2 linked regions of the Homo sapiens genome follow. The protein of the gene in region 2 interacts with the protein of the main gene of each other region in a pairwise test. Each region holds a gene or a part of one and is shown on either strand. Other genes may lie near its edges.

Evidence for each region. Proteins that work in one complex are often made in the same cells at the same time.
Region 1: the proteins of PICK1 (region 2) and AEBP2 interact in binary tests that used the Homo sapiens proteins (3 or more experiments, as listed by UniProt).

Annotation. Positions count from the first base shown.
Region 1 is NC_000012.12:19,437,730-19,441,549, reverse strand, and holds the start of AEBP2 (zinc finger protein AEBP2), read right to left. Parts: upstream 2,059-3,820; 5' UTR 1,851-2,058; coding exon 1,180-1,850; intron 952-1,179; exon of another isoform or gene 846-951; coding exon of another isoform or gene 823-845; intron 1-822. UniProt on the Homo sapiens protein: Acts as an accessory subunit for the core Polycomb repressive complex 2 (PRC2), which mediates histone H3K27 (H3K27me3) trimethylation on chromatin leading to transcriptional repression of the affected target gene.
Region 2 is NC_000022.11:38,055,304-38,058,903, forward strand, and holds the start of PICK1 (PRKCA-binding protein), read left to right. Parts: upstream 1-2,100; 5' UTR 2,101-2,284; intron 2,285-2,449; 5' UTR 2,450-2,506; coding exon 2,507-2,547; intron 2,548-3,600. UniProt on the Homo sapiens protein: Probable adapter protein that bind to and organize the subcellular localization of a variety of membrane proteins containing some PDZ recognition sequence.

The DNA of each region.
Region 1 (3,820 bases), on a different chromosome or scaffold from region 2:
ATTCCTAGAACTTTAGAATATTAAACTCTTAAATGAAAATCACTATCGACCACTAAAATTTCCATTGCTATACTTTTCTGGAGAGCATGTTTAAAAAAAATGTGATTGTCAAAACATAGATGGTCAAAATAAACGCTAATACACTTTAGAAGTGGCATAATATGCATGTGATTCTCGTTTTTTTAAAAGTACATTAAAAACCAACTAACCCAAACAGATCAAAAGTAATGATAAGACAATTGAAACATACACTATCACACTTTTTAAATGTTCTGAAAAAATGCGCATTTTTGTCACTCTCCAGTTACTTCTAACAAGCTTTAGTAAGAAAAATAATACTCATTCCTTCCGAGACCTCTCCAATGCATGACTTTAAATATTATCATTTAAAATCATGACTCTCATGTTGAAACATTACTATAAAGCCGCAAACTACGTTGTACCTTCAAGACTGTATTTTGTTACGATTCCAACTCTCTGATTCCGCAAAGTTATCTTAAAAGGCCATCAATTCACTATTCTTTTCCACAACCATTTATACGTGTTTAAAACTTTTTCCCAGATATGCTCCCAAAACAAATAGAAAAGATTGTTAAAATCACGTTGGAGACCACATGACTGACTACAAATGAGGGATTTGGGAGGCAATGATTTAATATAAAAGAACAGTCCTTTTTTTGTTTAAGTAGAGAAAAGTGATAGCTGGGGTCTCTCCCATGGACAAGGAAGTTCTGTTAAATCCAGGCGAGACCAGCCATATTGGAAACACTTGTCAATTGTAGTTCTGACAAGTGTTCCCGAACACGGTTGGAAGAAGCTAACCTTGAGTACCGACGTGTGTACATCAAGGCCCTCTTCTGCTCCGCCAGAGGATCTGGGCCCGTTTGGGGACTGTTTCCGAGTTAGAGCCGTCCTGAGGTCCGTGAGGAGCGAAGCGCCGAGGGGAAAGAGGGCGGGGAAAGGAGAGTTGGGGGGGAACGGTTTGAGAGTTGGAAGCCGCGATGCGCTGCGAGAGGGGCGCGGCGGCGACGGCGAGAGATTTCCGAGTTGAGAGTCTGGGGGAGGGGCCGAGGATTCGGGGAGCAGGGGGATCGCGGCAAAACGTCGCCTTGGTCCCCCTCTGAGGGGCCCGGGAGTTCAAGAGGAGGAAGGGAAGGGGAAACGCTTCAGAGCACTGACCTGTCCTCCGAGTCCATGCGGCTCAGGGGTTCCCCATCCGACGACATCTCCAAGCTGCCCCGCCGGCCCCCGGAGGTCGCGCTGCTTCCGCCTCCCCCAGTCCCGTAGCCCTCGTCGCCGCCGCTGGAGACTACGCTGCTGCTACTGCTGCCGCCCCCGCCGCCGCCCTGGCTGCCCCGCGGTCCCTTGGGCTCCTCCAGGCCCTCCTTGCCGTCCCCATCCCCGCTGCTGCTGCTGGCGGCGCCGGGGCTCAACGAGCGGGTCTCGTCGCTGCTGCTCCCGCCGCTGCTGCCCACCAGGCTCTCGGCGCTACTCTCCTCCTCACCCCCGCCGCTGCTGCTGCTCTCATCTTCCTCCTCCTCGTCGTCCTCCTCCTCGTCTTCGTCCTCCCCGGCCTGGCTGGCGCTCTCGGGGCTCGGCTCCGACATCGTCTCTGCCTCGCCGCCCCCCACTCCTCCGCCGCCGCCTCCGCCGCCCCCACCGCTGCCGCCGTTCAGCAGCAGCGCCGCCACCGCCTCGGCCTCCGCCTCCTCTTCCTCCTCCTCCTCTTCCTCCTCCTCCTCGGGGGGCTCAGCCCGGCCCCGCGCCGCCGAACCCGGGCTGCCGGGGGGCAGAGGGCTCAGGCGGGAGAGCTCCTCCAGGTCGGCCATGTCGGTGATAGCGGCGGCCATGGCGGCGCCTGCTCCTCCTCCTCCTCCTCCTCCCCACCGCCGCCTCCCTCTCTCGACTCTCTCTCCCTCGCCCCCCTCCCAAACGCCCAAAACTCCGCCGACGCCGCTGCAGAGCAGGAGGAGGGCCCGCGAGCTGCGTCAGCCTGCACACGCGCTACGGAGCCCGCGCGGGGACAGGCGCGCGACTACGCGCACTCACACGGAGACTGCTGCGCGCCTGCGCGGCGGCACGAGGCAGCACCTCCCCCGGCTGCGGGTTCTGCGCCCCCGCCCCCGCCCGGCGCCCGCCCCGCTGCCCAGTGCCCGCCCCCGCCCCCGCCCCGGCGCCTGCAAGTGCTCAGCGTTTCCTCGGGGCCTTCCCACGCCCTGCCGGGCTTCGAAGCCCAGGGACACGCGGACTGAAAACTCCAACGCTGGCCGGGGATTTTAGCAGCCTTCCGAGTTCTCACGATAAACTCATTCATTCCGGGGGTGTTTGAGGAGTGTCCCCTCTGTACAGGAGCTGAGCCAGGAATAGAACGAGCCTACAGTCTACGAAGAGAGCGGTTTAAAATGGGCAAAAATTAAAACACTACGGTGTAAGGTACTAAATTTTTATGCGCAACACAGGGCGACAGGTTTTAATACACCCTATGTTTGAATACCCCTGGAGATGTTGACATCCTGAACCCAGAGCAAACATCTTGGTTCAGGGTCCTCAAACTTTTTACTTCATGAGCCTTCTAAAACAATTTCGTAAAGCTGTGTATGTTCTTATACAGTTTAGAATGACAGCTACATTTTTCCGGCTTATAAATATTTCATCTGTCGCATTGTTTAAATACTGTATAGCCAATGGATTCTAAATACCATAGGGATTTAACACCCACTAATATCCATTTTTTTAAAATACAGTTTGGAAAATACAATTTCCAAATATTGTTTTCTGGAACTCATATTGACGTTGCATATCTCCTCTAGAATTTTATCCTAGTAATATATTTTATATTTGAACTATTTTGATCGTCTTACTTGTAATAAAAATGTGAACATAAATTGAAGTATCTGGGTTGTTTTTTATATTTTCTGTGATCATAAAGCTCTTATTTCAACCGATCAAAACAAATCTATTTCAAATGTTTGTAAGTACTAAACACAAAAGCAAAATTTTATTGGCAATGCATCTTGCAGAAATGAACTTGGGTGGACTTTTTTCTAATATACATTATGACCTTCAGTGGATGGATTTTTTTGAGAAATAGTTCAGCATCAGTTCTATTCCAAGTTTTCAATTCCATGGATATAAGTGTTGAGAAAACTTGTTCGCATAAAAAAAGCAGATGAGAATGAATGGAGTTTTGTTATAGTAATGCCACACAATTCTTTGAATGCCTTTCGCATTATATGCCCAAAAATCGCATAAAGATCTAACAAAGAAAAAATACTTTTAATGATCTGTCAGCTGACAACTCTGATTAGGTTCTCTTTCAACTTGTTGAAAGCAAGCAACTGAAAACCACCTGACTTGTGAAAGGATGTGTTACCCCATTCTTATTCACCAGTCAATTGTGCCTTTCTTTGGTGTCCTGGAGGTTTTTGCATAACCGGGTATTGCACCTTACTAAGATTTAGCATGAGGAAGAATTATGCCTTTCTTTTGTAAAGTAGGGAAGAGGTCATTGGAAGAAAGGAGACTGGAAAAGAGCCCACATTACACCCTGACCCAAGGACACATTTTCAGGCCAATTTTAGGGATGCTTCTACTCAAGGAAAATGAGGATAGAACTGACTGCCTGAAAACAGAGCCTCCATGCTCATTTCCCATTTGGGAAAGTCGTCATATACCGTGAGTACCCAGTATTACATCCTCTGCCTTAGGCCTTTGGACAACTGTTATATAAAATGTTGCCTCTAAGGGAATGCAAAAATAATAACATGGGACATCATTTACAGATACCTTCAGAGGCACATACAATGTAAGGTATTAACTT
Region 2 (3,600 bases):
TGAGGTCAGAGTGACAGCTGTGCCATGCAAATTGTTTACAAAGCACTCACACCTGTTTCTCCTTTTAATCTTTTGTTTCTGAGATGGAGTCTGGCTCTGTCACCCAGGCTGGCATGCAATGGCGCGATCTCGGTTCACTGCAATCTCCGCCACCCGGGTCCAAGCGATTCTCCTGCCTCAGTCTCCTGAGTAGCTGGGATTACAGGTGCATACCACCATGCCTGGCTAATTTTTGCATTTTTAGTAGAGACGGGGTTTCACCATGTTGGCCAGGCTGGTCCAGATATATGATCTAGATCTTATACCAACTCCTGATCTCATGATCCACACTCCTCAGCCTCCCAAAGTGCTGGGATTACAGGCGTGAGCCACCGCGCCCAGCCTCTCCTTTTAATCTTGACTTTCACAAATACCTGGTGGCAGGTGTCATTTCCCCATTCTACACGTACCTGAGGCTCAGAGTGAGACAGCGACTCACCCAAGATCTCCCAGCTACAAAATGGCAGAGCCTGGGCCTGAGCTAGCATGGTCATGGGCTGGAAGAGCCACAATCCATGTTAAGGCACCTGGGTTTGGAGACTGCTGCCTTTTTTTTTTTTGAAACGGAGTCTCTCTCTGTCGCCCAGGCTGGAGTGCAATGGCCTGATCTCGGCTCACTACAACCTCCCTCTCCTATTTTCAAGCGATTCTCCTGCCTCAGGCTCCCAAATAGCTGGAATTACAGGTGTGCGCCACCGCACCTGGCCTTAGACTGCTGCTTTTTGAAACCAAAATTCTGGCCTGGAAACAGAGCTTGGTTTTCCCAGCCCCAGCCCTGCCGCTATGATACCAGAGGAAGAGGCTTCCCAGGGCCTCCGTTTCCTTGCCTGCACAATGTGGCTGGCAAGATTTGGTCTTCTCTCACAGGGTGGTGGTGAGCTTTCAAATCCTGTGAAAGTGATCTCACAGGAGAGCAGTGGACACGTGGGAAGGCTGTTATTGTCACGGCATTCTGCACATCTGTCCGGACTCAATTAGCCACCTAAGGAGAGAGTAGGGCGGGGCTTCCACCGGCCGTGGGATATGTGGATAATCATCCTTCTGTATCTTTCTTCCATGGCTCCTGGGGCAGCTGGGGAAGCAAGCTGGATGGGCCTGGCCCCATGCTGCCGGATGAGGTGGATGCCTGGCTGTGGCTCTGGGAGAGCCAACCTCCCCCAGGGAACCCACTTTACACAATAGCAGTGGCAGCAGAGGCTGGCGAGGAGACAAGATTCGGACTCTGGGGAGCACTGATAGCATTTCCCGAGCCTCAGGTACATGCGGACCGTGACCCTCCCTGGGACCCCAGGGGGGCTGCTCCTCAGGACTAAGGAAGGAGGAGGGGGTGTGAGAAACCTTTCACCATATACCATAGAAAGCATTTACCTCAATGGCCTTGGTTTACATATGGGGAAACTGAGGCACATAAAGGGAAGGGAGCATGTCCAGTCTGTCCTTAATAGCAAGACCCACTGAATACACCTCTCCTGGCTCTCTGTTTAGTGTTTGGACGTTCAAAGATCCCTAGACTAGGCGGCGGGAGTTTCAGGGCCACGATCCAGATCTTACACCAACTGTGTGTGGCCCCGCACAAAATCACTCCCCGCTCTTTGGCACTTAAGTTGGCGAAACTGGGATGGGCTGGGACCTCAAAGGGCCATTCTAGTAGGGGAGTCACAGGCCCAGGTGGTGAAGGGGTGAAAGGGCATGATGTCTTGGGGTTTATAGTCCACTGAGCCTCGCCGGAGGTAACCCCGGCTCAGGGATGCTTTCGTTGCCATGGCAACCGCCGGGCCGGCGCGGGCCCCTGAGTGCAGCTGAGGAAGCTGGGACAAACCCTGCCCTTCCCAAGATGGCGGCGGCGGCAGGGCAAAGGGCGGGGTTAGACGCTGTCAGCCTGTCCAGACCGTTCCTCTGTTTTCGCTTGTTCCTACTAACAGCGAGCTTCCGCCAATACTTGTTCTCGTTCTTGGTTCCGAGCGTCCCGGGAGCCGGGAAGGGAAGGATTGTCTGCAGGGATTGGAGCAAATATCCAGTGGGGGGAAAGCCGGGACTTCCGCGTCTTGCCGGAAGTGACGTGACAATCGCGGCCACCGCCAGGTGGAACGGCAGGTGGGTTCAGGTACCAGCCTGGCCGGGACCCGGCTGTGGGACCAACGCTTCCGGTGAGCGACAGAGGCAGCTCCCCAGGGCCTGGAGACCCGTGGGGCGGACTCTGGGATCTGAGCCTATCGCCCTGGCCTGGAGCCCCCCTTTGTACCTAGTAAGAATCACCTACCCAGCCCCCCACCCGGAGACTGTCCCATCCCACTCCAGAGGGAAGAGGAGGGCACTGCTGTCCCGTATGAGGTGGTGGAGGGAGGGGTGGCGTTGGCATTTAGGCACTTGGGTTCCTTAAATCCTATGCTCCTTTCTCTCCCGGATCCAGTTCCCCATTCCCCTACCGAGCTGGGCAGTTAGCCAGCCCACTCCAACTCTCGGAACCATGTTTGCAGACTTGGATTATGACATCGAAGAGGATAAACTGTGAGTATTTTATTCCCCCAAGTTCCAGCAGTATAGGAGCCCCAAGTTCCTCATTTCCCTGGACTTCCCAGTCCCACAGACCCTTGCTTCTCAGCGGTGGATCAGTTGTTGTACTGAAGCAGCAATGGACCCTGCTCTCCCAGGAGCTCACTATTTGTAGGGGGCTGTGGACAGTTAAAGGGATAATCACAGCTCAGTGCCATAAGGGCACTATTAGCATGACTTGGTGACAAGAAGAGCAAAGCAGATGGAGCAGTGCTTCTGCTGGGATGGTCAAGGAAAGCTTCATGGAGGACGTAGCAATTGAACCAGGTTTTGAAGGTTGAATAGGAATATTGTAGACACCCTTCCTTCCCAACATAGGTTGTTAGTAGGACAGATTTTCCCATTAGAATATATCCTCTTTCAGATCAAGGAGTGGGTGCAATGCCTTTCTCTATGCTCAGCACTTAGTAAGGGACTTGACGTCAGTAGGTTGTTAGCGAATGTTTTTTGAATGAATAAGTGAATCAGCGTGAGTACTTATCATAAAACACCAGTCAATGCTAATTTATAGTGGAAACCGAGAGGTAATCGAGCAGTTGAGAGGTGGGAGGTGGACAGTTTAATAGAGGAAGACTCCCTGGAGTAGGTGGCCATCATACTACATAGATGCCTGATAAGGTGACAAGGACAGAACCTGGCTCAAATCTCAGAGATCGAATAAATGAAAGGGAAGGGGGACCTATTTTTATGGAGTGCCTGCTATGGACTGGGTTGCTGTTAGTGCCCTCCATGCATGGTTAGAAGAACTCTGATAAGGGTGCTCATCCACATTTTATGGATGAGGAAATTGAGATGCACAGAGGCTGACTTACCCAAGTCCCATAGCTGGCCAGGCACGGTGGCTCACGCCTGTAATCCCAGCACTTTGGGAGGCTGAGGCAGGCGGATCAACTGAGGTCAGGAGTTCAAGACCAGCCTGGCCAACATGGTGAAACCCCGTCTCTACTAAAAATACAAAAAAATCAGCCAGGCGTGGTGGCAGGCACCTGTAGTCCCAGCTACTTGGGC